Regions from separate parts of the Homo sapiens genome. Here regions 1 and 3 are each linked to region 2. The links come from fine-mapping of genetic effects on gene expression. A gene starts in region 2. Each other region holds a variant in brackets. All regions are shown on one strand. Distances are from middle to middle.

Region 1 (10,189 bases), 29 kb before region 2:
ATGTCCTTAGGTATCTCCTCTTTTACTCTACTGGAAGATATCTTAGCTTGTCAGACTTCCAGGTGATATGCTTGTGCCCTGTTACCTAGCTCTGACAAAGAAGATGAACGGTTTTATAACATTACTATAATTGTGTGTGTGTGTTTAATGAAACAAGGTGCTGGCCTTTTAATACTGTTGCAAACTGATCTTTATTAGCGTCTCAAAACTCATTATTTTTTATTTCCTCAAAATAAAAAGTATGTGTGTGTCAAAGGCCACTATCAAGAAAGTGAAAAAAGACAATCTACAGAATGAGAGAAAACATTTTCAAATCATATATCTGATAAGGGTCTAGCATCTAGACTATATAAAGAATTTTACAACTCAGTAATAAAAAGACAGCAACCTAGTTTTTAAAAGGGCAAAAGATGTAAATAGACATTTCTCCATAGAAGACGTACGAATGGCCCATAGCACATGGAAAGATGCGCAACATCATCAGTCATTAGAGAAATGCAAAGTAAAACCACAATGAGAAACCACTTCACGTCCACTAAGATTGCTATAATAAAGGGGGAAAAAAAAGGAAAATAACCTGTTTTGGTGAGAATATGGAGAAATCAGAATCTTCATATATCGCTAACAGGGATGTAAAATGTGGTGGCACTCTTGGAAACAGTTTGACAGTTCCTCAGAAAATTCAACGTAAAGTTAACCATATGACCCAACAATTCCACTCCTAGGTGTATACCCAAGAGAACTGAAAATGTGTGTCCACAGGAAAACTTGGCACACAAATGTTCATAACACAGTTATCATAATGGCCTAAAGGTAGAAACAGTCTGTCAGCTGATGAATGGATAAATGCAATGTGATATATCTATACAATGGAATATAATTTGACCGTTAGAATAAAGTATTGATACATACTACAATATGGATGAATCCTGAAAATGCGCTAAGTGAAAGAAACCGATCACAAAAGGCCATATATAGTATGACTGCATTTGTATATCCATAGAGACAGAAAGTAGATTGTTGGCTGCCCGGGGATAGGGGACAGGAATAAGATGTGACTGCTAATGGGTATGGAGTTTCTTTTTGAGGGTATGCATATATTCTAGAATTAGATAGTGGTGATGGTTGCATAACCTTGTGAGTATACTAAAAACCACTGAATTGGCATTATTTTTAAATAGTGAATTTTATAGTGTGTGAACTATATCGCAATTTTAGAAACTTATTTTTGTCTTTCCTGGAGTAACCCTTAAAGTTTCAAATTATTATTTCTTTAAACTATATGTCATGTAACACAGTGGTATCACAGACACTGATTACTTTAATACTATTACTTTAATTACTAATTAAAATATATATATATATATATATATATATATATATATATCTGCCTGCCTAGGTACCTTTTTCAGCTGTTGCTAGCACCATTTCTCTGCTCTGATCTCCATCTTATCAAATTTCAATAGTAGTTTTTTATATTACTTAGCCTTTCAGTAGCATTTGACTTATTGATCACTTCTTTTTTCTTGAAATACTTTCTTTACTTGGCTTCTAGGACACCACTTGCCCCCAGCTTTCCTCCTACGTCAACTAGTCTTTGTTGTCTTCATTGTTCTTTGGTCTTCTTCCTGACCTGTGTAAATATTGCCAGTCCCTGAGCTTATGAGCTTATTACCCCTGGCCCTCTCCTCTGTCTACCCTCATCCCAAGGTGATACCCAATGTCATGACTTAAATAACATGTAGAAGTTGCTGACTTCTACATTTATATTCTCAACCTGGACCTTTCCTATAAGTCCCAGACTTTTCTGTCCAACCGCCTACTTGTCATCTCCACTTAAATGTCTAAAACATGTATCAGGCATCAATAGCCAGAGCCAATCTCTTGATTTCCGCTTACCCCTCAAAGTGCTTCTCTCCCAGTCTTCTTCATTTCAGGTAGATACCTCCATTCATCTAATTTATTCAAACAAAAACCTGAGAGTTACCCTTGATTCTTCTCTTTGCTTTGTACTCCACAGCCATCTCATTGTCGTATTTTCCTGGCTGTACATCCAGAATCTGACCACTCCTACCTAGAGAGCTGTAGTAGCCCTTTCAACTGGTCTTCCAGCTTCCGTGCTTGGCTCCGTTACATTTTGTTCTCCACACAGCAGCCAGACTGATGTTTTAAAACATAGATCACTCACTCTCTTGCTGAATCTCTCCAGTAACTTCCCATCTCAGTTAGCTAAACTCCAAATCCCTAATTGTGGCCTATTTTATAGCCCCTGCATGTTCTTGATCCTGCTTGTTTCTGTCATCCTCATCTGTCAGTTTCTGCTTGAGTCATTATACTCTGGAAACCCTGGCTTTTCTGCTGTTCCTCAAACACGTTAAGCTTGGGGGATTTTGGTGTACTGTTTTCACTGGGACACTCCAGATTTTCTCATGGGTTACTCCTTTATTCAACTCTGCTCAGATGTTAACTATTTTCCCTCACTATTTTTTAGTCTTTTTAAAAACTCTATTGCATTTTTCTGTATAATCTTTTTTAGAGCCTGGAATTATATGCGTATTTGTTTACTTTTTATCTTCCATACAAGAAGAAGCTCTTTGAGTGCAGAATTTGTCTTGTTTATGACTATATCCCTAGTGGCTAGAACAGTGCTTGGCACATAGCAAGCAGCCATTCAATATTAATTTAAAGAAAATAAAGAGTGTAATTGCCATAAAGGTTGTGTTTAAAAATATTATTTTTTTCTTTTAAAAGAATGTCCAACACTGGAATGAATTGCTATTGAGAGGCTTGGCAGTTTCCTTAAAAAGAAAAAGAAACCCAGAAAAGTCATATAACAGTTAATATTTTTCCAGGCAGTAGGAGATGGATTTCAGATGAAACGGCTGTATGGTCCTCTCCCTGAATTTGCACTCAGCTGCATTTTTCAGAACTGATTGCATGTAATTCTTAAATGGAGCACGTGATCTGCCACCTTTCTAGAATAAGGACTCATCGCACATCTGTATCAATGTAGTACATTCCTAGCCAGTCTTCGTGCCTTAATTCAGGTCTTCCTTGGCAGCATCCCTCTCTCTTCCAACCCTCCCCAGTCAGCTTTGCTGCAGATTGATATCCCTGAGGAAATAGGTAACATTTTATCCAAAATCTTTTTTGCAGATCCTTGAACTTGTAGTGTGCCCTTGCCCCTCTATGTCTACTTCTTACCATTTAGCACTTAGCATAGTTTATAATTCATTGTAAGTATAGGATTTTCCTTAACTAAATTGTAAAGACCATTTTTTTTGTATATCTGATTTCTTGTCTACCCATTGCAAAGGTAAGAAATTCATACTGGATGATTATGCCAACAATTCAGTCAGACTTTAGAAGATGTTAGTTGCTAGTAGTGAAAGGATTGTTGACTACATTTCAGTTTGCTGGTAGAAAAAAATACTTCGTTGTTGGAGCATTACTGATTAATATGCTGAATCAAGTTGTTTTAACTTTAAGCTCTTTTCAGCCTTAGATCTCACACTTACTGGGTTCAGTGGTGGGATGTTTAAGTCATGGATCCAGTGATCTGGCCCTCAAAGAGCTTCAGTCATGTAGGCTTCTCTATTCATGGGCTGGGTTGATGTAGAAGCAGCCCCGTCACTGCTAAATGCAGTTTGTGGTGGAGTAGAGAAGGCAGTGTAAAACCTAAGAATCAGTTTCTCTGGGGTTGTCACTAATGTGTGTGCTCATAATTTAATTAACACATGGTAATTTCCTAACTTCTAACTCCAGTGATGAATGCAGTCAGTAATAAGCACTGTTAAGCTAGTAATTTTCTTTGCAGTGTATCTTGGCCATTTTTATAAAAAATAGATTGAAATTGAAGATTCAGTGTGTTGCTAAGAGCATAATCTCTTTGAGATACCATGTTTTTGCTGAATTGGGATCTAAATTAGATGACAGTGCACATTCTTAAGATAGACATCATTTTCTTCCCAAACTGAACATTTTCCTTTCTTGCTAAATATGTGTGTGTGGGGGGGATATAGGCACTATATATTTCCAACTGAAATTGTAATCTCAGCTTCTGAGTTTGCCATCAGTTTTTATTATCTCCTTATTTTAGTTTAGAACTCCACATATACAAATGGGTATTTATCCTTTTTCCTCCTGTATTCTTCTTCTTGGAAAATGACATGATGGCTCCAACAAGTCATCCAAGCCCTAATTCTAGTAGGTGGTCATCTCTGTCTCTTCTCTTTCATGTTCCTTATAACTAGTCTGTTACTAAGTCCTGCCAATTCTACCTCAGAATACTCCCTTTCAGTCCCCCTACTGCTGCTCTGTTGAGCATTGAGGCTCTGCACTTACATCAGGCCCCATCTGCATCTCTATGTCCAGTGTTACTCCCCTCCAGATCATCTGCCAGGTTGCCACTAAAATGACTTAAAAAAAAAACGTAAATTTGATTGTTATTCCCATGCTTAAAATACTCTCCATTGCCTGCTTCAGAATAAAGTTCAAGTTCTTTAGCCTAATAACTAGGAAATGGTTTCTCTCGGATGCCTCATCTCCTACTACTTTCCCCCTTTGCAGCTTCTGTCTACTTTCTAAACTGGGATAAAGGAGAGAAAAAGTTTATTTTTCTTAAAGCCATGCTCAGTTCTGTCTAAATCAGAACAGGGTCACCATTGACACCACTCTCACCCTTGGTAATTCTTCATCTCTCCAGTGTGAATTGAGGAATCCTTTGAGTCTTATTATCAAGCCAGGGAACTTTATGAAGCAATCCACTCAGGTCTTTTATATCACTGCATAACTTCTGTTTTCACTGTGATTAAAATAAGATAATTGAAGGTGTTCATGTGTCATACTCAAAACAATTTTGTTTTGCTGGACATATCCTAATGACCAAGGATTTTGTCCTTTTGTTTTTTGAGATGGATTCTCACTCTATTGTCCAGGCTGGAGTGCAGTGGCACAATCA[C/T]GGCTCACTGCAGCCTATACCTCCTGAGCTCAAGCCATCTTCCTGCCTCTGTCTCCCAAGTAGCTGGGACTTTAGGTGGGCACCACCACACCTGGCTAATTTTTTAAATTACATTTTTTTGTAGATACGGAGGAGTCTTGCTATGTTGCCCAGGCTGATCTCAGACTCCTGAACTCAAGCGATCCTTCCACCTTGGCCTCCCAAAGTGCTGAAGTTATAAACATGTTGCCACTGTGCCTGGCTTATTTTGTCTCTTTTTTTGATCCCACCCTATCCCTTTGAGTGTGGTGAGATGCATGGGAACAGAAGGCTGTATTCCCTCAAATGAGTTAATTTGGAAAATGCCTTCCTGTACTGACTACATATCCTTCAGACCTGAGTTGTGTTTAATATCCTTCCTAAGCACTTATGGAGTTCCTGATGCCATACCTTCAGTGAAGTGTCTTTGTAGAATTTTTTATTATTCAAATGTGCAGTGGAGAAACGTAACTGAAATGATTCTTCATAATGTTCTATTAAAGCTATCAAATGCCTGTTTTCTTTGAACTGGTTAGCCAGCCAGCTCTGGCATCAGGTGTGTTAGTCTGACAAAAGTTGTCTTTATCTTGGCCGGGTGTGGTGGCACTTTGGGAGGCTGAGGTACGTGGATCACTTGAGGCCAGGAGTTCGAGACTAGCCTGGCCAACATGGTGAAACCCCATCTCTATTAAAAAATACAAAAATTAGCTGACTGTGATGACACTTGTCTGTAATCCCAGCTACTCGGGAGGCTGAGGCATGAGAATTGCTTGAACCCAGGAGGCGGAGGTTACAGTGAGCTGAGATCGCGCCACTGCGCTCAGCCTGGGTGACAGAGTAAGACTCTGTCTCAAAAAAAAGTTGTCTTTATCTCTTCAGTGGGTGGTGTAGGGGAGTAATTTCTTTAAGATAGTACTTTTTGAGCTCTGTTTTCAGCCAAATTGCAGTTGGTTTTACATTGGGGGGGGAGGTTCAACATTTTTGATACCCTGTGAGTTTTGTGGTCCTATTCAAGATTAACATCTTTTTTTTTTTTTTAGGTTTTTAAAATGTTATTACTAGAGCTTGTTAGGAATCAAGATACAATGTATAGCTGTCACTTCAGGGATCTCTTTGTTTCCTGTTCTTTGTGTTTTTGATGGCTAATAATTCCTTTCCTTGCACTTCATGGGAAAGCAGTGTAGAATAATGAGAGAGCATGGGTTTTGAGTCCTGGCTTTACCACTTTCTGCCTTTCACCTTTGGCAGGTTTTTTAAACCCTTAGTGTTATCTGTAAAAGGAGGATTTTAACTGTTCTTACCTTGTAGAGTTATTGTGGAAATTAAGTGAGATAGTGTATATAAAATACTTAGCACATCCGTAGCACATGTTAGGCATTCAGGAAATGGTAGCTATGATTATACCTTCTGTCTGCCCTCCATCCCTTAAAGAAATTCTGTGAATAAGAACCAAGTGAGATCATTTTGACCATGTTTACATTTGCTAAATTTAAACTGGAGAGTAACATTTTAGAGATCTTTTTCTTCCCTTTTTTTCTTTATAAGGATTTAGACATTAAAAAAAAAAAAAAGCTATTGAGAGTATATTGTGTTCCAGGCTCTGAGAATACAAAAGTGTATAGTCCCTGTGACCCAGTGAGGGAGACAATACATACAGTCAGGTAACCATGATGCAGTGTATTATATAGTTTTATATCATTAATAGCAACAGCAATAGCTAATTTTTATGAAGTACTTGCTAGGTACCAGGCACTGTGCACTGTGCTATGTTTTATAATTACACTATTTACTTCTCATACCAACCTGTGAAATAGATACTTTCACCATCTTAATTTTACAATTTAGCAAACTAATAAGGCTTTAGAGAGGTTAAATTATTTGCCCAGTGCCTTCCAGTATTAAGTGGAAAAGTGAGGATTAAAATAAAGTAGCCTGACTCCATTCTCCCTTGGATAATAAGGATTCACCTTATTGGGTAAGGAAAAAAAGCATTTGCCTACATACATTTGTATTTAGTCTAAATCCAGTCAGCTTGTTTTTTGTTGTTGTTGTTGTTTGTTTGTTTGTTTGTTTGTTTTTTGAGATGGAGTCTTCCTCTGTTCACCCAGGCTAGAGTGCAATGGCACCATCTCGGCTCACTGCAACCTCTGCCTCCTGGATTCAAGTGATCTCTTGCCTCAGCCTCCCAAGTAGCTGGGATTACTTAGCCTGGCTAAGTTTTGTACTTTTAGTAGAGATGGGGTTTCACAATGTTGGCCAGGCTGGTCTCGGACTCCTAACCTCAAATGATCCATCTGCCTCAGCCTCCCAAAGTGCTGGGATTATAGGTGTGAGCCACTGCACCTGACCAGAACCAATCAGCTTGTGATTTGAAGTACAGTACACCTTTAAGAATAAGGCCACAATCTGCTTTGGGATTGAGTTCAGGGATTAAGGCAAATAAAAATAAGTTTATATCACTGAAGAAGAGACAGTTTTATAATGAGCCATGTATTTGTAATTTAGCCCTAAAGAATTTTGTTGGCCTGTCATTTACTATTTGTATGGCACTTAACATCTTTGAACTCTAGTTTTCTAATCTGAAGGACATTGGTTTCTGGATTGAGGGTCTGCTTAGTGCTGCAATAAAAAGATGAGTGGCAATAGCAGTTTTACAGTGGGTGAAAATTGACCTGTGTAAGGGATATCATCTTGAAATTTTAGATACTGGCAACATAAAGAACTTTTTCTAGATTTCCAGAAGGAAAGGTGTTCAACATAAATCACATCATTTATACAAACAGTTGAGGCACAGTGAGCCATTCTTATCACTGAGGGAATGTATTTATATCAGTGTAGGGATTTGTTTTATCAGCCAGCTTGTCAGATACCAGCCAAGGGCCAACCTTGCAAACAAGCCTTGCTAAAGATGGCAGTCTTGGACCCAGGTTCACTTATTTCTGCACACTGCCCTTCTTTTTAATTTATCCTGTGAGGTCCCACATAAAAGAAACTAATTTTTGCTTTCTCTTTTTATTATTACAAAAGGAAAGCAATTTGCAATTAGTGTTGAGGAAGACAAAATTGAGGCAAAAAAAAAAAAAAGATAGCTTTTAAAATACCCGAATTAGTAGTAGAGAGAACATGAGGAGCAGCATACATTTTAGTTGATGAGCAGTTTTTGAGCATGATGAGAAGTAATAATCAGAAAAAGAAGCACCTAATAGCAACTCCCCTTCTTCCAGATGGTTCTCCATACTGTAGTAGAGACATTACTTGCTTCGAAATGGGCTGTGTTGCCGTAAAGTCAAATTATAACCTTTCTTGTGATTTCATGTAATTCACTGGAAATGTTTCTTTTCCACTTACTGAAGATTGCTTCTAGGTACCAGGCAGTGAAGTTAGAGCTGAGGCTATTTCAATACATTGTAATGGCTGCTTCTGCATTTTATTCTCCCAAATTGGTTAAGACATTATCCTCTGACTTTTAAAGGCAAGTTTCTTTTCTGTGATGCAATGCAGGCAGTGAAGTGTGGCTAGGTGTCTGAGAATATGATTTTCCTGTTTTTGAATGACCCATAATTTTTAAATGACTTTATTCTGACTTTATTTCACAAATAATTCAAATGCTATGGTGGATTTGGCTCTACAAGTTGGTTCTTTTGCATGTCTTCAAAGAGGGATTTACTTGACAGTGTAAATGAGCTATCTAGCTAGAAAACCTGCTAATTTCTTTTTGGTTCAGTTTGTATCTTTAAAATTAGATGTCGTGTTTGATTTGTAGGCTGGCAGTCTATGGCAGTCAATAGTGCAGTATGCTGCCATGAGTAATTTTCTCAAAGAAAAATTTTTGCTTTTACAGGGCACCAAGGGGGAAAAAAAACTTGATTGACTTTTAATCACTTTAAGTATGGCTATTTTTAGCTCATGTTATTTCTTCTAACAAACTTCACAGAACAGGTTTTCTCTTTTGTGTAATAATATATAGAATCACAGTTAAAAAAAAAACAAGGTTGATGAATTGTATTTCTGTAGTTGTTTAAAATCTTTACAATTATTTTTATCCCATCTCTTATTTTATTTTTTATTGTTTGTTTGTTTGTTTGTTTGTTTATTTATTTATTTATTTATTTTCAGAGACAAGCTCTCACTATATTGCCCAGGCTGGACTCGAGCTCCTGGGCTCAAGCTGTTCTGCCACCTCAGCCTCCCAAGTATCTGGGATGGCAGGTACTCACCACTGCCATCTCTTTATTTCTTATAGGCATTATCTTTGTACTTGTGCTCAATCCGAAAGATAAATATGACATTCTCTGTCTTTCAGTAAAATAATCCATTCTAAATCCAGATGAACGTTGGATTGCTTGCTGGTTTGTAATTTTTATGGAATACAATATTTGTTCACTTGATCTAAAAAATTAAGAGTTGGCCATTAATGGTCTACAAAAAACAGGTTTGTCAGATTATTTGTAGCACCCTGTTCCTCTTAAGCTATATTTACTTAAATACTTGCATTTGAGAAAATTTTTTACTATGTAATATATTCACATGGTTAAAAAATTTTAAAGGCACACATAGAGTAATCTTACTCCTCCCCGTATTTCTCTACCCTGATAAGATATCTGGATGTACCGTAGTTTGTTTAACCAATCCCCTTGTAAATGAGCACTCGAGTTACCTCCAGCTTTTCACTATTACAGACAATGCTGCAGTGAGTAGCCTTGTATTTCATTTCACATGTATTCAGTTATAGAAACATTCCTGGAAGTGGGAAGTTGAATTCAGGGTGCTAAGTTGGCATTCGTAGGTGCTGTAACATTTTGAACTTCTACATGAGCAGTGAGAGAATTATTTGCTTCTGAATAGCAGTGTTTGGGAAACTTTCTAAACCTCTATAGATAAGGGAAATAGAAGTAGAGTTTGTCCACTCAACTCGTGTTGGGACTGAGTCTGGGACTTGGTTTGTAATTTAAAATGTAGTGTTGTTTCCAACAGGCTATCCTGGAATTGCTATCTTAAAGTTAAGACATGCTGGTAAAATAATAAAAGTTGTTAGCTGACAAAGTGATATTAAAGGAGATCCTCCCCATTTTGTTAGTATCTGTAAATTCATGTATCTGTATTTTCTGAGTTTTGTGGTCACAGAAAGAAAGAATGAACAAATAGAGTAATTTTCTGTACTCACATTTCGGTAAAATGAAGGTGGGATATACAAGTTTACACTTACAGTCT
Region 2 (10,189 bases):
TATGGCTGAAGTCAGTACTGATTGGTCTTATCCTGTTACATAGAGTTCTGTTGATAGTACCTTTAATTAAATGTAATAAAATACTTTGAATGGACCTGGTTCCAGTTTCTGTCAGTTTAATTAGAGTGACAGGTGGAGTGGCATACTTATGGGAGAATTCATCAAAAGCCAAGATGGCATAGAAATGAAAGGTGCATATCGTTGGGAGACAATTCTTCATGGGTCTCTAGCATTTCTGCATATTTTGCAAAGAGAGGCACTGACTATCTTTGTTCCAGACTATTTGTCCAGGAATGTTTGTATAGTAAACAACCTTAGAAGGTATCAGAGCAAAGGGCGCACATGCTCACTGCCCATTATTGAAGATTCAGGTTCCCTAACCTCAAAGTTCCTCTCCTTTAAGGCACTTCATTACATGTGCAGGTATCATCTGGCTCTCTGCGTCATCATATGGGAATTGGGGCTCAGAACTGGAACAAATGCTGGTACTCTGGCTACTGCTATTGCTGTAAGTAACAAACTATCCTTTTTACAGGTAGTAACAGGCTATCTTGTTAGCTTGCAGGTAAGATAAAAATCTCAGACCCTTCACAATTCTTGACAGCCCCACTCCTACTTCTGCCTGTCCCATATCTTGGAAGCTCCCTAACTTCTGTAACAGGAAGTTCCCCCGATATTCCTGTGCCATCTTACTTGATCGCATTACTTAATACCCTTCTGCATCCCTCTTCCTTCAAACTTTTATATAATTCTGCTCTGCTAATACGGGTGCCAGGCCTGATCCCCTCGCTTTAGTTGCTCACAGTCTGCTGAGAGTGTCAGACACTTAGACAATCTGAACACAGTAGAAGGAGGTGCAAAGTGCTATGGGGGCTTGAAAAGGAGTATTTGTTCTAGTATGGAGGTCTGGGAGGTCCTCATACAGGAAGTGAAAACTGAACCATGAGTGAGGAGTTGGGCCATTTTACAGATGAGGAACCTGAGGCACAGAAGTTAAATAAGTTGCCGAGATCACTCAGCTAGGAAGTGGGAAGAGAGGATTGGAGCCAGGATTCTCTACCTCTAAATATAGAAATTGCTCTTTAACTTCACTTTCTCAGGCATAAGATGAGACCATCTGAGTTTACCTCAAAGAATTGAGAAAGATTTGGTATTAGCTTTGGGTCTATAAAATTTGAGATCCACAGAGTTGGTGATTGTGAACTTGGAGAAGTCTGATAAAGAACCCCAGGACATGACCCGGTTTTTATAAAGGAAATATTTCAGACAAATAAGGCTTAAAGAATAATAAGATGAATATTTGTGAACCTACTGCCATTAAAAATATATATATTACCAATACAGTTGAAGTCCTCAGGGTATCCTTAATCATATCTTACTTCCTGCACTTTCAGAAGTTACTACTACCTGGAATGTGGTGTTTATTATTCGTAAGCATTTTCTTCATACATATGTGTCCATTATATATATGGATATATACAGATATATAGAGACATATATGGTTATTTTTTAATTTTATTTTTACCTCCTTGGGAGCTCTTATACAATATATATGGTTATTGTTTTACCTGTTTTTAAACTTTATATGTGGTTTTTGATTGAGAGTCTCCCAAACAACCCCTGTGTTCAGGTATTTGCTAGAAGGACCCACGCGACTCAGCATATATGACTAAGATTTATTCTTCGATAAAATAAGGACACATCTGGATCATAAGGGAAAAGGACACTGGCAGAGTCTGGAGGAATCCATTTGCAGGCTTCCTTATGCTCTTCCTCCCATGAGGGATTGCAAAGAGCCCACTTTGCCCCAACAACAAAAATGCAGCAACACGTGTGTAATGTTTCTGTCCAGGGAGCCCATTAGAGAGTACCCACAGTTTATTGAGGTTTGGTCATGTGGGCACCATCTGCCTAGCACATAATAAAGACTCCTAGAAAGCAAGCAGGTATCCACCATAAATCATACTGCAATCAAACAGTCTACATAGTCAACTACCCTTTTCAGTTAACTGGTGACTGGGAACACTTTGAGAGCCAAGTTTCCAGACACCTGTCAAAAAACACCAACCTTGCAAGCAGGCCTTCCTAAGGATAACCTGTTAGGCCTGCTATGGTAAATCTGCACAAGTACCATTCTCTCTGTATTGTGCAACTTGCTTTTTTGTTCAATATTTTGTTTGTGAAGATAATTTAGATTGATACCTGTAGCTACAATTTATTCTATTTCACTGCTGTATACTGTTAAACATGACAGTTTATTTACCCTATTAATGGACATTTAGGTCTTTTATAATTTTTCACTATTAAACATTTGCTGCTATGAGCATTCTTGTATGGACACATCTAATACAGGTAGTGGGATTCCTTGGTGGGAGAGGATATACATTTTTACTTTTCTAGGTATTGCTAAATTTTCCTCTAAAGCGACTGTACCAATTTACATTCCTTCTATTAATGAAGGAAATACAAGATTGGAATAATTGGGATAGTTGTGTTATCTTTGTGAATAGATTTTAAAATACTGATTTAGATTTTTAAATAGTTGTAAGACTTCACATTTTCCATATCTTAGTTTGGTAACTTTTTCTAAAACTGTATTAACTTTATCTAGATTTTCAAACTTAAGGAATAAAGTTTGTTTAATATTTATTTCTCATCTCTGTTGTATCCCTGCATATAGTCTCCTTTTCATTAATATCATTTATAACTTTTAAAAATGAGTCTTGCCAGAGGGTTTGTCCGGTTTATTAGATATGTCAAGACTAATATTTGCTTTTGTCAGTCCCCTCTATTGTACTTTGCTTCTTGTTTCATTTATTCTGTTCTTATTTTCATCATTTCCTTTTCTACCTTTTTGGGATTTATTCTGTTCTTCCTTTTCTACATTCTTAAGTTAGATCCTTAACTCATTACTGTTTTGTTGTTCTTATCTCCTGGTATAGGGTCTTTATTTGAGTTCTCCCAGAGGCAAGTTCTGAGACCAGGACCTGAGGGCAATAGTATATGTGAGAGATGCAGGGAGTGCCATAATGAGGTGGGAAAGTAGGAAGGGAAGAAAAGGTGAGCAATAAGGGTGTAGCTTTTAGTAGCTATTGATAATTGCTGTCTAGATTCATTAAATTCATTTTGTCATTAAAGGACAAAATGATGAAATTCTATCATTCATTTGGCATTGGTCAGTTAATTATTTTATGAAGGAGAACTTTTCCCCATCAACTATTTAGTTACCCAGAAATAGGGTTTGTACAGGAAAGGCAGAATAAAAAGCTGCTTTCCTTAGCAAACTCTGAGGTGACCAAAGTGACATTTTTCTCCATATGTCGATATGAACTTTCTTTGCAGTCCTTGTTCTTTTTGATGTTCTAATTTTTCCATATTTGGCCAGTGGAATCACCTTCAAATTGATTCTTACCTTCTTTTGACATGACCTGAAATAGTCTTTTATGGCTTTCTTGCTTTCTGTTAAGATGTTCTAGGCTAATCTTATAAATTTTCTTCCCTGCACCTAAAATCAGCCATTTTTTTCATGGAACCCTGGTTCCTTTGGGGACAAAATAGTATTTTAAGACCCATTATTGCCAGGCGCGGTGGCTCACGCCTGTAATCCCAGCACTTTGGTAGGCCGAGGCGGGCGGATCACGAGGTCAGGAGATCGAGATCATCCTGGCTAACATGGTGAAACCCCGTCTCTATAAAAAATACAAAAAATTAGCCGGGCGTGGTGGTGGGCGCCTGTAGTCCCAGCTACTCGGGAGGCTGAGGCAGGAGAATGGCGTGAACCCGGGAGGCGGAGCTTGCAGTGAGCCAAGATGACGCCACTGCACTCCAGCCTGGGCGGCAGAGACACACTCCATCTCAAAAAATAAAAATAAAAATAAAAAAGACCCATTATTTGGGCTTATTACGATGAGTTGGTCTCTGGTTCTAGGCCTTTTTTTTTTTCTTTTTTTTTTTTTTTTTTTTAGAAAAATACAGCAGGTTGTATTGAGGTTGGCACCTATGTTCTTTCAAAGAACCCTCATCATTTTGTGAGTTCTTTCCTTGTGGCACCACGATGTTCCAGGCTCATCTTGTATGTTCCCTGCCTCAGCACAGGATTTTTTTTAATGAGAAAAATATCACGAATTCAAATTTACAGAAGCTTTACATTTTTATGTCCTCTAAGTTAGCAGTCTGTCTTTCCTTTTATTGGCGTTTGTAAAATTTCTTCTTTTTAAAATTGTTATATTTTAGAGACAGGGTCTCGCTCTGTCACCCAGGCTGGAGTGCAGTGGTGCAATCACAGCTCACCACAGCCTCCAACTCCTGGGCTCAAGGCATCCTCCCACGTAGGCCTTCCAAAGCGCTGAGATTGTAGGCATAAGCCACCAGGCCCAGCCTATTACCTTTACGTTGTACTTAGTCCCAGATAAAAAATGACCTTAGATCAGTCCTTTCCTCTTTGGCTGGGGAGAGGGGGGCTTAAATTCCGGTACTGTGAAACAGAAGAATGGACTCAGTGCTATGTGACAAATCTATGTATGTAAATGTGTGTATATACACACACATAAATTATATATATGAATATATTTTCATTTTCATATTTTGCAAGGAGAGTAGCCAATGCTCTGGACCTCTGGTCCTTTTTGTAGGGTACCCTCTGAGGCCGGGAACCTTTGCTCAACTCTCAGGCTGTCCAGGGAAGCTTTAGGCGGTGATACCGAGCTACAGACCAATATAAGAGCTCGGGGCTGTGGCACTGAAGAGAGGAGGCGGCCGTTGGGAACTGAGGTGGGCCCAGGGCTTGAGCTGAGTTGGCGAGGGTGGAGGTGGTGCCGGTCCCACGCCGTGGTGGGGACCGAGCTGCGGGCTGGAGGGAGGGGCAGCGCCGAGGGGGCGGGACGGGGAGGGCTCGCGGAGTAGGCCAACGGTTGGCCCCAACCGCCACTGACTACAGCCTGCGCCCGCCTCTTTTCGTTGCCGTTACCTGTTTCCGGCAGTCGACACGCTCTTCGCTTCTCGGGGCTTGTCTCCGTGTCCTCCGTCTCAGTTGTTTCTCCCTCTCTATCCTCCTCTGTCTCAGTCTCCCCAGCCTTGGGGCCGGTGCCTCTTCCGGGCTTCGGCGAATGAGACCTGCGGACCTGCCCCCGCGCCCCATGGAAGAATCCCCGGCGTCCAGCTCTGCCCCGACAGAGACGGAGGAGCCGGGGTCCAGTGCAGGTGAGCGGGGTTGGGAGACAGGAGAGCTCCCCGAGGAGGACTCAACTGTGGGGACAGGTTGAGCAAGACCATCTGCGTTTGGGAAATCCAGCCTTGGATTATTGAGACAGAGCCACCTAGTCGGCTAGGATCTGACCTGGCCAGAGAATTCTTGGCTAGTCCTATTTTTATTCGTTCTCACAGAAGCCGAACTTAAACCTCAGAATTATCACTCCAGAGATGAAAGGGAACTGAGACTGGAAAAGCCCTGCTTACCAAAGGTCTCTGGGCGGCAGAAAGAGCCCTGAGCTTCAGTTTCAACTTAGGAGACCTGGGTCTTGGTCCAGATTTTACTGTGGAGTGGCGTTCAGTAAGCTTTGTCCCCATCCCGGGCCCGAGTTTTCCCATCTATACCATGAGAGGGTTTAGACTACAGATCTTCAAAGGTCTGGCACGTGGTAGGTGCTCCTTAAATATTACTTGTTAGGAGTGAATAAATGAGATAGGAAGGCCTCCTGGGATTCACTGGAGGCTCATTGGGTTAGTTGGAGGCTGTGGAATTACATTATTATAGTCTGAGAAGTAGGCGGTATTATCTCCATTTTATAAGTGAGGAAACTGAAGCTCAGAAGTAAAGTGACTTGCTAGTAAGTGTCAAAGATAAGTCAGACTTCAGAGTCCATGCTAGGCTATACTCTCTCCCAGTAAGAAAGCGGGAAGGACTTGATGGGAAAGTGATTATATCGAGCAGCAAGTAATCATTTGAATTCTCTGCTTAAATGAACCCCAGAGCAGGCCCATATCTGATTATTTTCTATCCCGTTTCCAGCACCTGATTTGTGTGAAACGTTTTGGGTGGCAATGCCAGAATCACCATCTATATTACTTCTGTCATCAACACGATCAGCATAATTACAAAAATTAATGGCTCTAATTGTTATAGTGATAATAAAGCATAAATGAAATTGTGAGGACATCAAAATTTATAATTAAAGACACCTATTAAAACAGCAGTTTAAAATTTATAAAACACTTTTGAGTGGTTCTTCATATTGATCTGCTTAGGTAGGTATTATTATCCATAGTTTACAAGCAAGGAATCCAAGACCTAGAGGTTGAGTAACCATCAAAACGTCATGCAGCAAGAAATGGAGCTGAGACTTGAATCCAGCCCATGTGACAAGTTGTGCTTCTCCTTTGGTGATTATTTCCCTATTTCCTCTCCATTTCCTTTTTTTTTTGAGATGGAGTCTTGCTGTGTCACCCAAGCTGGAGTGCAGTGGTGCAGTCTCGGCTCACTGCAACCTCCGTCTCCTGGTTTCAAGTGATTCTCCTGCCTCAGCCTCCCGAATAGCTGGGATTACAGGTGGATGCCACCATGCCTGGCCAATTTTTTTTGTATTTTTAGTAGAGATGGGGTGTCACCATGTTGGCCAGGGTGGTCTCGAACTCCTGACCTCAAGTGATCTGCCCACCTCAGCCTCCCAGAGTGGTGGGAATATAGGCATGAGCCACCGCACCCAGCCTCTTCCTTTCCTGTTCTGAGCCCTAACCCGCTCCATGCCTATCCTGTGCTCCATTCTTCTTATCACCTGGAGAATTCCTGTTTAGATTTAACTAATAGTCACATGTTGACTGATGATAGTAGTGTTGGTTTAACTTGTAATTAAGGTGTTAAGAGTTTAAAGTATGTTCTCTTTCAGCAATAAAGGGGGATTTAAATGTTTTTAAGAAAGGGAGTTGTAATTGTTATTATTGTCATTGTTATCCACAGGATTCAAGGAATAAAACTAGAATATACAGTAATTGGTAGTTTAAAAATAATAACTGTCATATATTGCACTCATACTATGTCATAGGCCTTGTAATAGCCACTGTAGTTAAGCATTTTATTTCTATCACCTACTCTGCTGAATTGTATAGGGGAGGATCCTGAAGCATAGAGAAGTTGAATAACATGCCCAAGGTCACATAGTCCTGGCCTGGTCCAAATCCTATGTTCTTAACCATTACACCAGCCTGGCTCAGAGACAGATTGTTTGCTTAGAACAAAGCCTGACCCTCCCGGGGAGGAGAGCCTGAATTGAGGGGAGAGAAGTATGCTCTAGTATTGAGTGAGAAGATGGTCTCCCCTTGCTTATCTTTTGATTCTGCTGTTGAGAGCCTGGGATTGAAATGAAGGGAGGCTTTTCTTCTGGACTCAGCAAGGCCACTCTCCCAGTTCCCCTCATGATACTGAGCAATAGTTCTTTTCCCTTCTTCAAGTTAGGAACAAGTGACTAAATATTCATATGCTATTGATAAAAGTTTGTCTTGGTTGACACTAGGAGGCTGTAGCCAAAAGCAGTGCAACTTTGCCGTATGGTTCACTGTCCTGAAAGCTTCCTGGAAGATTGGTCTAAAATCATCATGCCATTCCTCTGTCAAAAATTCTTGAGTGGTCTCCCATCTGTGGAATAAACACCTTAATAAGTTATCTAAGCCTCCCAGGATCTGGACTGTGCTGACCCCTTCAGTCCCACCTCTGCCCCCATCCCTTGCACTCCACCTTACTGTAGTCACACTAAACTACTGAGAGGCCCCAAAACTCACTGTTTTCTGTTGCCTATAGGCTTTTCACATCCTTGTCCTCTGCGCTTCTCCTTTTAACCCTCAGTTGGCTAATCCACTGTTCATTCTTTAAGATCTGGCTCACTGATTCATTCAATCATTCAACAAAAATTTGTTGAGTGCCTATTACTTAATAGGCATAGTTCTAGGTGTCAAGGCGGAGCAATAAGAAAACAGACATACCCTTGCTGTTTCTGGAGCTTCCATTTTGTGGTATGTATTAAACAAATGTAACATAGGAGGCATCAAAGTGTGATAAGTGGTGTGGAGAATAGAACAAGGAAAGAAGATAGGCTGGGGCAAAGGAGTTGACAGAGAAACCTTCCTGATTGGATGATGTTTGAGCAGAGCTGAAGAAGGTGAGGGAGCGTTATGTGGCTATCTGAAACGAGTGTTCCAGGCAGAGCCTGTGACTATATGAGGCAGGAGTTCTTTTGGCTCAATCATTCTCTCCAAAAATCCTTCTCTGGTGCCTTGATCTGGATAGATGCCACTTTTGTGTTTTTCTACTTGCTGTTGTGTTTACCTCTAAAGTAGCACTTATTACATCATGTTATAATTGTCCATGTATATGTCTGTTTCCCTCACTTGGATTGGGTTTCTTGAGAGCAGGAACCTCTGATCCTTCTCTGTCTTCTCAGCATCTATTTTAGGGCCTGACACAGAGGAGGAACCTAGAAATATTTATTGAATCAATTGTTCTTACAGCCTGATAATATTTACAAATGATTTGTAAAATTGGGTTTGGATGACAGTTGGTTTGAGGAAAAAGTAATTCTAAGGCTGCTTTTTGTCTGTCTGGCTTGATTCCCCTTTTGGACCTCTGAGAAGTGGAACACCTGGTTTTCTTTAAGAAGAATACTTGGAGACTCCATTGTGAGCATTATGGCAGGGTAGCCAACCTGTAAAATGGTGGGTAAAATATAACAAAGCCGGCCGGGCACGGTGGCTCATGCCTGTAATACCAGCACTTTGGGAGGCCAAGGTGGGTGGATCACCTGAGGTCAGGAGTTGGAGACCAGCCTGGCCAACATGGTGAAACCCGTCTCTGCTAAAAATACAAAAAATTAGCTGGGCGTGCTGGCGGGCGCTTGCAATCCCAGCTACTTGGGAGGCTGAAGCAGGGGAGTTGCTTGAACCCAGGAGGTGGAGGTTGCAGTGAGCCGAGCTCACACCATTGCACTCAAGCCTGGGCAACAAGAGCAAAACTCCGTCTCAAAAGAAAAAAAATAACAAAGCCCTTTATAGCTGAATTTGCAAGAAAGTAAGAGAAATCTCCAGGGACCTAGAAACCAAGAGTGAACTGAAAACCAGAGTGGTTAGCTCCTTAATCTGCCCTCAGCTGCACTGGATGTCTCACCTAGAAACTTGGACTTTAATAGGCCTGTTGTTATACCAAATGAAGCTATAGGTCCGCATGGGTTAGACTCTAGTGGGTTTTTTGTTGTCGTTGTTGGTGTTTTTTTGTTTTTGTTTTTGAGATGGAGTCTTGCTCCGTCTCCCAGGCTGGAGTGCAGTGGGGCAATCTCAGCTCACTGCAAGCTCTGCCTCCTGGGTTCACACCATTCTCCTGCCTCAGCCTCCTGAGTAGCTGGGACCACAGGTGCCTGCCAGCACACCCGGCTAATTTTTTTGTATTTTTAGTAGAGATGGGGTTTCACCATGTTAGCCAGGATGGTCTCGATCTCCTGACCTCGTGATCCGCCCACCTTGGCCTCCCAAAGTGCTGGGATTACAGGTGTGAGCCACCACGCCCGGCCTGGTTAGACTCTAGTTTTTGACAGAGGATGGCATGTGAAATACTCACATGAAGCTAGGTCCCTTGAAAATCTGCACCCTGTGTAGGGTGTATACCTTCTGATAGGGTGGACTAGTATCTTAATTCACTTTCTGTTGCTTATAACAGAATACGTGAAACTGGGTAACTTATAAAGAAAAGAAATTTCTTGCAGTTATGGAGTCCGAGAAATCCAAGGTCCAGAGGCCACATCTGGTGAGGGCTTTCTTGCTGGTGGGGACTCTGCAGAGTCTGGAGGTGGCATAGGGCATCACATGGCAAGGGGGCTGATTATGCTAGCTCAGATCTCTAGTTTTCCTCTTATAAAGCCCCTAATGCACTCCCATGATAACCCATTCATCCATTCATCCATTCATGAGGACAGAGCCCTTATAACCCTATCATCTCTTAGAGGCCCCACCTCTCAACACTGCCATATCAGGGATTAAGTTTCAACATGAGTTTTAGAGGGGACAAATATCAAACCAGATCTACTAGGAAAAAAAAAAATTCTCCCTACTGACACAGATAGAAGACAAAGAGATTGCCTTTTATCCTAGGCTTTCGTACAGAAAAAAAGTTTTCCCAGAAAATTCTTAACCATAGGCATTCACTCATACAGAT
Region 3 (9,789 bases), 240 kb before region 2:
TGGCTAACACAGTGAAACCCCATCTCTACTAAAAATACAAAAAATTAGCCGGACATGGTGGCGGGCACCTGTAGTCCCAGCTACTCGGGAGGCTGAGGCAGGAGAATGGCATGAACCCGGGAGGCAGAGCTTGCAGTGAGCCGAGATCGCGCCACTGCACTCCAGCCTGGGCGACAGAGCGAAACTCTGTCTCAAAAAAAAAAAAAAAAAAAAAAAAAAAAAAAAGAATTACTTCTTCCTCTGAAACAAAAGGGAAGGAACTGAAGATGAATAAAAGTAAGAAGGTAGCAAGAATCTTTAAAGCAAAATGGAAGGGGCCAAATCTCAGGGGGAGATCTGACTTGAGGGAGGAAGAGCACAGGAAGAAGATGCTATCCAAAGAGGACAGGTGGCACTGGTGTGGTCTGAGGGGCTTAGCCTTCTCCTTTTTAGATGTGTAAGGTCTCAGGATGGACTCAGCAGCACTTAAGCTGGAAGGAGAGGTCTTGGGCTTGCAGGAAGAAACAGCCTTGTCTCCACCTGGAACTAGGCTGAATGGCCTTGCTCATATCTGAGTCTTTCAGTCCAGCAAGGAGAAGCTGGAGCCATCAGCTAGAGGGAAGTTTTGTAGTGATGTGGATGAGGAGTGAGGAAGGGGTAGTGGTGGGGTGGAACCATGCAGAGCTATCTGGGTAGAGGTGCTATGAGAAGGATGGTAGGGAATTCTGACAGCAATGCAATCCTCAGAAAGCAGCTGGAGGGGAAGCATTGGTACCTGGGGCTGCACTGCCATTTGTTCCAGTTGGCATCGTGCATTAAAGGGAGTCTGTGAATCCTTCTTCCCATGGTGGTCTGTGGTGCAGGTGGGGCCTTAGAGAAAAGCTATTTGGGCTTGTTCTACTCTAGGCTGTTGGCTTAAGCTTCTTGTATCATTTTATAATCTACCAAGCACCCTTGACAACCATTTTTAGGCGACACTTCAAAAACAACAAGCTAATGTCTCAGTTAGAGTACTTTGATGTAAACAACAGAGACTGTGAGTCATTTAAGAAAAAATGAAATTTACTGAAAGGATACAAAGAGTTGACAGGAAAACTGCAGCATCGGATATGGAAAATGGGCTGTAACCTAGGCAGGCTCGGCAACGGGAACCACAGCCAAGTCTGTGTCTCAGGTACAGCCTGGCATGGCCACCCTCATCATGGCAGGGCCACCCCCCTCAAACCCCACCAGGGCCCCACTGCTGTTGCATACCTACTGTCTCTGTTGCTATGAATAATTCTAAAATTGTCTCTATGTTTTCATGTCACTTGCTGAAGATGCCAAGCTCAGAGAATAGTGGCCAGGTGGCTGAGCCTGGGTCATGTGTCACGTCCTAACTGTTAGGGGGCAGGGAGAAGAATATCCCTTCAGGTTCAGCTTCCCTAGCCTCATCAATACTATATAGAATGGGGAATTCCCTAAATAGAAAGGAGGTTTGGGCCAGGCACGGTAGCTCATGCCTGTAATCCCAGCACTTTGAGAGGCCGAGGCAGGTAGATCACTTGGGCTTAAGAGTTCAAGACCAGCCTGAGCAACATGGTGAAACTCTGTCTCTATAAAAAATATAAAAGTTACCTGGGTGTGGTGTTATGTGCCTGTAGTCCCAGCTACTCAGGAGGCTGCGGTGAGAGGATTGCTTGAGCCTGGGAGGCAGAGGTTGCAGTGAGCCGTGATTGCTTACTGCCCTCCAGCCTGGGCAAAAGAATGAGACCCTGTCTCAAAAAAAAAAAAAAAAAAAAAAAAAAGAGAGAAAGAAAGGAAGGAAGGAAGGAAGGAGGGAAGGAAGGAAAGAGGTTTGGATGCATTTTTGTCAGTTTTCAATTTTCATCACAATCCCAGGCTGCTAGGCTTGAAACTTTAGAATCATCCTCATTGTTATTAGCTTCCCACATAGTGAGTGGCTCTCCAGATTTCTTAGGTGTGCCTTGCTCTCTGTCACCACTATTGCTTTTAGTAAGATTACTCAGCAATGGCATAGAGGAGAGAAGAGGCTGGAAATTGGAAGTTGGACTTCTACAATGTTAGTGCTGGAATGGTCCTTTGAATTTATCTATTGTAGTGGTCTTACCTAGGAGTATTCATTAGAATTCTTATGGCACTAAAAAAAAAAATACACAGCCTGGTATCCCCCACCTGGGTTTCTGGGTTCACTAGATCTGAGGTGGGACCTTGATATATACAGGTGTTTCTGAGGTGTGTCCCAGGTTGAGAACTGATGACTTTCTTTTTTTTTTTTTTTTTTTTTTTTGTGAGCCAAAGATTTATTTCTTCATTTCTTGCATTTGAAATACTCTTCGATGACATCCTTGGCCTGAGACTCCTTGCCATAGTCCTTAACTACTACACAACTGTAACCAACCACTTTATGGGGTTTCCCCTCTCTGTCAATTTTACAGAGGCCTACCCATTCTCCTAGTTTCTTGTTGTCATCAACCTTAATTAGGTTGATTTGGTGTTCAGCACAAAGGGCCTCCACCAACTTGACATACATAGGCTCATCACAGTTGGATGCAAGCACACAAAGATGGGCTTGGCGCTTGTCTAAGACTTTGGCAGCTTCGCGAATTCCACGTGCTAGGCCATCGTGGATGAGGGCGGTCTTCAGCACCTCTTGTAAAGCAGTATTAACCTCCATTACACCTCCAGCAGCAATGCCTTCCTCGGCCATGGCAGTGGGTTACGGGTGAACCTGAATCTTGAACGCACCCAAGCCTCCGCCTCCGCGCGACTCGGCGGCAGGAGGGAAAGGGCGAGAACTGATGACTTTCAATACTCTTTTTTTTTTTCGAGATGGAGTCTTGCTCTGTCGCCCAGGCTGGAGAGCAGTGGTGCCATCTCGGCTTACTGCAACCTCCGCCTCCCGGGTTCACGCCATTCTCCTGCCTCAGCCTCCCGAGTAGCTAGGACTACAGGCGCCCGCCACCACGCCCGGCTAATTTTTTGTATTTTTAGTAGAGACGGGGTTTCACCGTGTTAGCCAGGATGGTCTTGGTCTCCTGACCTCGTGATCTGCCTGCCTCGGCCTCCCAGAGTGCTGGGATTACAGGCGTGAGCCACAGCACCAAGCCTTCAATACTCTTGTTTTAAAAATGAGGAGATTGAGGCCCAGAAGGAAGTTAGCTGTTTGAAATCACACAGTGAGTTAGAAGGGGCCAAGACCAACCCCAGATCTCCTGGCTTCTGGTCCAGTGCTACTCAGACCTCTTGCTTTTTCCCTCTGCTAAAGGAAATTTTCTATATTTATTTGTATCCAAGAAAGCATGCTATGTTTCTGTGGCTCAGCTCCTCCAACAGTAAACAGATTAAAAGATCCAAACCATCGAGAGTGAACAGCCTGCACAAATGGTCCCATTTCTAATGATGGTTGGCTTGATCTCTGGATCACAGATCTCCTTTGTCAGAATCCGGGAAAAATGTCCTCAAGAACCTTAAGTTGGGATGGAAGTGGGCAGGACCCATGGATAAAGGATAGCCTAGCCAAGGCCATACTTCTGTGTCTGGCAGGATTCTGTCTGGGTCTCTATGCAAACAGGTCTTTGTTTTAATCACCCATTGGCCTTTCTTCAACTCTTGACTGTCCTTTAGCCATCTGGTTCTTATCTTGGGAATCCATCACCTTTTTTTCCCCCTGCTCTCTGAGTTAATCAATCACTCGGCACTGGATTGGTTTACCGCTAGCTCTGGGCAATCTCATCAAAACCCAGGGCTTCTCATGCCTTCTATTATATTATGTTGATTTTTTTTTTTGAGACAATGTCTCATTCTGTTGTCCAGGTTGGAATGCAGTGGTGCCATCACGGCTCACTGCAGCCTTAACCTCATGGACTCCAGTGATCTTCCTGCCTCAGCCTCCTGAGTACAGGTGAGTGCCACCATGCCCAGCTAATTTCTGTATTTTTTGTAGAGATGGGGTTTCACCATGTTGCCCAGGCTGGTCTTTAACTCCTGAGCTCAAGCGATCTGCCTGCCTCATCCTCCCAAAGTGCAGGCGTGAGCCACCGCCCCCAGCCTATGTTGCTTTTTTATTTTTCTCTCTTTACAAAACTCGTGTTATCCTATAAAGGTTTCCACTAAGAAATGCCATTTATTTAATGCTTCCCATTCTTTGCCCTGCTCCAAATCTATCCCAGGGCAAAGAAAGCAAAGAATGGGAGAACTACTGTAGCAGAACCACCTTTCCATTAGAGAGGGGTCATTCTTTCTCCTGGAACCTCTGCATCTAGAAAGGGCACTAGCATCAAAGTCCAAGCACCTCTCCCTAGCTCAAGCAGGAGTGACACGGTCAGAGCTGGCCTATAGGAAGCAACTCGAAGAGTGTGGAGGATGGATTAGAAAAGAGGTTGGGAGAGGGGAGACAATCAATCTATAGCAGCTACTGCAGTAATCTAGATGAGAGATGATTAGACCTGAATTGGGCAGTGGGAATGGGATGAAGAGGTGGGGAAATAGTCATTTTGATAGTGGAATTGACAGGACTAAATAACTGATGGTTTGTGGGAGATAAGGAAGAAGTTCAAGATGACTAGGTTTGGAGCTTGAGTACCTGGGAGGATGGGACCTTTCATAGAATGAAGGAAATAAGAAGAGCAGTTTTGAAAGGAGGATGGGAGACAGTGACATTAGTTTTGTACATGAGGAATGTAGGGATCTAAGAGGATGTTTCCATCAGGCAGTTGAATATGGAGGGCTGGACTCAGGAGGCCTGGGCTGCAGACAGCAATCTGGGAGCTCCTGAGGGAAGAAAATGTGGACCAGTGCAGCACGCAGAGTGAGAAGGGGACTGAGGCCTAAGCCTAGAGGAACACCCACATGGAAGCACCAAACACGGGAGACTGAGAAGGAGCCAAGAGCCTGGGAAAAAAACCAGGAAAGTGTGGTTTTACCAGCCAAGGGGGGCAGTTTCAGGAAGGGACATGGGGAGAGAGGATGAGGAGGTAGGATTGACAAGAGGCTGCTCCTTTTGGCAGTTAGTTACCACGGTGGGCCTGGTTTCAGTCACAAAGCTACCCCCATCCTTAGGAGAGAGCTCAGGCCCTCATATCAAATGAACACTAAGGCAGGTTTCTGAGTAACTCACATATTCCCCACTCACTTTCTCCTCAGTTATCAAGGCATTACAGGATAAGTACGTGTATCAAAGTTTAACATCGTTCAGAATTGCCAGTAAAGCCCCTCAGTTCCCACCTCTTTCAGTTCAGTAAGAGGAAACTGCAAGGACTTTTCGAGAGTGCGGCTGATGACCGCATAATAAAGAATAACTAATAAATATTAATGAAGTATCCCCTCTGGCCAATCAGGTCTGAGGAGAACCCTCTTTGGGCTCACAGAAGCCTCGCCCCTCATGAATATGTAGATAGCACTGCCCACCGCGCGTACTGCCCCGCCCTCCACTCTTCTCCCTCGCAACCGACTCTCCCTTCAAACGGGAAACAAGATGGCGGCTGCAGGTCCGAGTACTCGGGCCTCTTCCGCGGCGGCAGCAGCCGCTCTGAGTCGGCGGGGCCGGCGGGGCCGCTGTGACGAGACGGCGGCAGCTAAGACTGGGGCCCCAGGCCCGGCTTCTGGACCTTCGCTGTTGGTGTTGTCGCCGCCGTTGCTGCAGCCGCCGCTGCCGCCGCGGCCGGAGGAATCGGGCTGCGCCGGGTGCCTGGAGCCCCCCGGAGAAGCAGCGGCCCTGCCGTGCGGCCACTCGCTTTGCCGAGGCTGCGCCCAACGCGCCGCCGACGCGGCGGGCCCGGGTTGCCCTCGCTGCCGCGCCCGCGGCCCAGGCTGGGCCCGCCGTCGGGCCCGCGACGACGGCCAGGCCGACTCAGAGGTGCTGGGCGAGTGCGCCCGCCGCAGCCAACCCGAGCGCTGCCGCCCGCGCCGGGACGGGGGCGCGGCTGCCGCGGGGCCCAGGCCAGAGCAGGAGCCGCGTGCCGCGCCTGCGGAGCCAGGTGGAGCTTCCCCACTTCCCCTTAGGGTCTGGAGCGAGGCCGAGCGCGCCCCGGCCCGGCCTGGTGAGGGGGTGGAGAGTCCCGGGCCCTACTCGGGCGGGTGTGGAGAGTTCTCGTGGGATTAGAACCCGGGCTCTACCCAGGTGCAGTGTGTTTGTGAATTTTGAACTTCAGAGTGAAGGACAGGCACGTTGCATGCGGAGGGGCGGTGAGGGCACCCTGTGCCTTACGTAAGTCCGAAGTTTGGAGGGAAACAGAATTGTTGGAACAAGTTAGGGGCAGGTTGGAATTGGTGTGTGGGAGTGGGAGGGGCCTTGGATCAGAGAAGTGCTTGGTTTAATGTTGGATGAAGAGTTTGGGGGTCATATTGCTTGGAGAGATGTGGCTCCTGGCCTTGAAAGGGTCAGTGAAGGGTGTGGAGAATCCGGAGTTTAGGGAACAGGTTGAATTTGAGGATGTGAAGGGAGCTTTTCAGACTCGAGAGCAGAGGGGGTTGGGAGCACACTTGTGCAGTTGTTTTCATACATTTTGGAAAATGTATGCTTAGCACAGAACTTGGCACATAGTGAGGAAGCAGTAAGTGACTGTCGTTTATATTTGTAATACTAGTACTACTAAGTCCAGTAGTGCCTGACAGAAAAGCTGGCTTGGGTTTAAAAGTTTTGGAAACAAAGGTTGGGTGGCAGGGGCTGCTTCTATCTCCTTGGCAGTATGGGTTTCCTACTGGCTTGCTGGCAAT[TAA/T]AAGTCTGTTGTAGGACTCTTGCCTTGAACTTCTTTCCCCTAACACCAGCAGCCTGCTATTCCTCGGTTCTGAGCTTTGAAATGCAAAGTGCCCTGTATAAAATAAGACTGTTATAACTTAGGATTCTTTTGGGGACACACCCAGTCAACATAACATCTGCAGCTCTGTTTGATAAAAAATGCTTACCTAGAATGAGATTTTCAAGAAACATAAATCACGAAAGGCCAGATATTTGTACCTTCTGTTTTGGGAATTCTGCCATGTGTTTTTTTGGGTAAGGAAAGAGAGGCATTGCTTGTGTATACAAGTGCAGCTTCTAGAAACCACAGGTTCTAGAATGCACTCTGTTTTGATTCAAGCCGCCAGAGACACCTGTCACTGTCCTAGGATATTGGGCTATTTTATTCCTGGGGTTGAGGGGGACCTGCATCTTACTTTCTATGTTCCTTGTCACTCCCCTCACCTTTTTTTTTTTTTTTTTTTTTTTTTTTGAGATGGAGTCTCGCACTGTCGCCCGGGCTGGAGTGTAATGGTGCGATCTCCACTCACTGCAGCCTCTGTGCACCACCCCTTCAGGTTCAAGCGATTCTCCTGCCGCAGCCTCCCGAGTAGCTGGGATTACAGGCGCCCACCACCACGCCCGGCTTTTTTGTATTTTTAGTACAGATGAGGTTTCACTGTGTTGGCCAGGCTGGTCTTGAACTCCTGACCTTGTGATCCGCCCGCCTTGGCCTCCCAAGGTTTTTTTTTTTTTTTTTTTTTTTTTTGAGACTGAGTCTCACTCTGTCTCCCAGGCTGGAGTGCAGTGGCCAATCTCTCAGCTGACTGCAACCTCTGCCTCCCAGGTTCAAGCGATTCTCCTGCCTCCGCCCAGTAGCTGGGACCACAGGCACGCGCCACCACACCCTGCTAATTTTTGTAATTTTAGTAGAGACGGGGTTTCGCCATGTTGGCCAGACTGGTTTCGAACCCCTGGCGTCAAGTGATCCGCCCACCTCTGCCTCCTGAAGTGTTGGGATTACAGGCGTGAGCCACTGTGCTCAGCCCTCGTTATTCCTTTTAAGCTTCACAACATCCCTATGAGATAAGTACTTTTATTTCCATTTTATAGATGAAACTGAGGTCCAGAGAGGTTAACTAACTTGCCTAAGGATGAAAACCCGATTCTATCCTATTCCTGCTCAAATCAGGGATGAAACGTCTTTAATTTTGTGGATGTGGTGTGATGGTTTCATATGCTACTTAATTTGCTTTATAGTCTGAGATTATGGTCACGATATAAGACAGTATTTCTCTGGTCTCCCTATTAGTACTACTGATTATATGGCCACATAGGATAGAAATTTTCATTTTGATTTCTAAGCTTGGAGACTGTTGTGAAATACCAGTTCTGAATTTGAACCATGAGAGGAAGTTTGGCTTGATGATTTGTGCAAACTTTTTCCCTTGAAGATGTTTTTGTCATAAAATTTATCAGTGATTAAGGGAAATTATCTAAAATGAGATTTCAAATTAGAATCTATTGAGTCACTTAGTATTCATTAATTACTTTATATGTTTATATGAGGACCAAAATGAAAAATGGTTTTCTTAAATGTTCTTGTTGTTGGATTGTTTTGTATATACAGTTATGTGCTTATTCAGTTGAAAAATTTTAGAATACAAAAATATTGCCAAAAGGCTTAGGAAGTATCTCTTAGCTTCAGTGGGTTGTCTGATCCTCTTGTAGTTATATACAGTATTTTTAAATTAAAATTTTTAATAGGCAGTGCATTCACAGGATTCAAACAAAAATGTAACAAAGTATACAATGAAAAGATTCCCTTTGGCCAGGCGCGGTGGCTCACCCCTGTAATCCCAGCACTTTGGGAGGCCGAGGTGGGCGGATCACAAGGTCAAGAGATGGAGACCAGTCTGGCCAACATGGTGAAACCCCGTCTCTACTAAAAATACAAAAATTAGCTGGGCATGGTGGTGTGTGCCTGTAGTCCCAGCTACTTGGGAGACTGAGACAGGAGAATCTCTTGAACCCAGGAGGCGGAGGTTGCAGTGAGCCAAGATTGCACCGCTGCACTCTAGCCTGTTGACAGAGGGAGACTGTCTTAAAAAAAAAAAAAAAAAAAAAAAAGGGAAAAAAAAGAAGTGATTCTCTCTTACCCCCTTATTTCTCACTCCCGTCAAAGATTCTTGGGCTGGGCATGGTGGCTCATGCCTGTAAATCTGGCACTTTGGGAGGCTAAGGCGGGCGGATCACTTGAGGTCAGGAGTTCAAGACCAGCCTGGCTAACATGGTGAAACCTTGTCTCTACTAAAAATACAAAAATTAGCCAGGTGCGGTGGCACACGCCTGTAGTTCCAGCTACTGGGGAGGCTGAGGCAGGAGACTCGCTTGAACCTGGGAGGCGTAGGCTGCAGTGAGCTGACATCATGCCACTGCACTCCAGCCTGGTGGCAGAGCAAGACTCTGTCTCAAAAAAAAAAAAAAAAGATTCTTGTTTGTTCTTCCACAGTTTATGGATCTATCTACATGAAAATTCAAGTATGCTTATTTTTTGCCATTTTTATACAAAAGGTTGTACATTATACACACTGTTCTGTAACTTGCTTTTTTTTTGGTTTAAGAATACATCATCAAAGTCCACAGCAGTATGTTGTATGGAATTTTACTGAGTGGATATAGCATAATTAACCACCTATTGGTGGACATTTTGATTGTTTCCTGTCTTTTGCTATTATAAATAATTGTTTATAAAATCATTATGTAAATGCATGTGTGCATTTTTATGGAGAAGTCACCAGTAGCTTTCACCAGAATCTGAACCATTGTTTTATTTTATTTATTAATTAATTAATTTATTTTTTGAGACAGAGTCTTGCTCTGTTGCCCAGGCTGGAGTGCAATGGCATGATCTCGGTTCACCGCAACCTCCGCCTCACCGGTTCAAGCGATTCTCCTGTCTCCATCTCCCGAGTAGCTGGGATTACAGGTGTGCGCCACCACGCCCGGCTAATTTTGTATTTTTAGTAGAGACGGGGTTTCTCCATGTTGATCAGGCTGGTCTCAAACTCCTGATCTCAGGTGATCCACCC

What was found.
Region 1: its variant is fine-mapped to the expression of NEU3 in whole blood (TOPMed, PIP above 0.99).
Region 3: its variant is fine-mapped to the expression of NEU3 in whole blood (TOPMed, PIP above 0.99).

Annotation. Positions count from the first base shown.
Region 1 is chr11:74,954,501-74,964,689 of GRCh38, forward strand. All of the region lies in intron 1 of SPCS2 (signal peptidase complex subunit 2), which reads left to right. Among named protein-coding and RNA genes, the nearest start is that of SPCS2, 10 kb to the left of the region's middle. The variant C/T (reference allele first, on the strand shown) is at 4,961.
Region 2 is chr11:74,983,956-74,994,144 of GRCh38, forward strand. It overlaps NEU3 (neuraminidase 3), which reads left to right and starts at 4,978. Exons shown (of 3, transcript NM_006656.6): 1 at 4,978-5,199. The coding sequence starts at 5,106. RefSeq lists enhancers at 4,728-4,777, 5,058-5,247, 8,927-9,046.
Region 3 is chr11:74,743,426-74,753,214 of GRCh38, forward strand. RNF169 (ring finger protein 169) reads left to right here and starts at 5,424. Exons shown (of 6, transcript NM_001098638.2): 1 at 5,424-5,957. The coding sequence starts at 5,456. It also overlaps the pseudogene RPS12P22. RefSeq lists silencers at 5,255-5,475, 5,649-5,798, 5,829-6,088, 6,099-6,198 and enhancers at 5,449-5,538, 5,688-6,281. The variant TAA/T (reference allele first, on the strand shown) is at 6,697.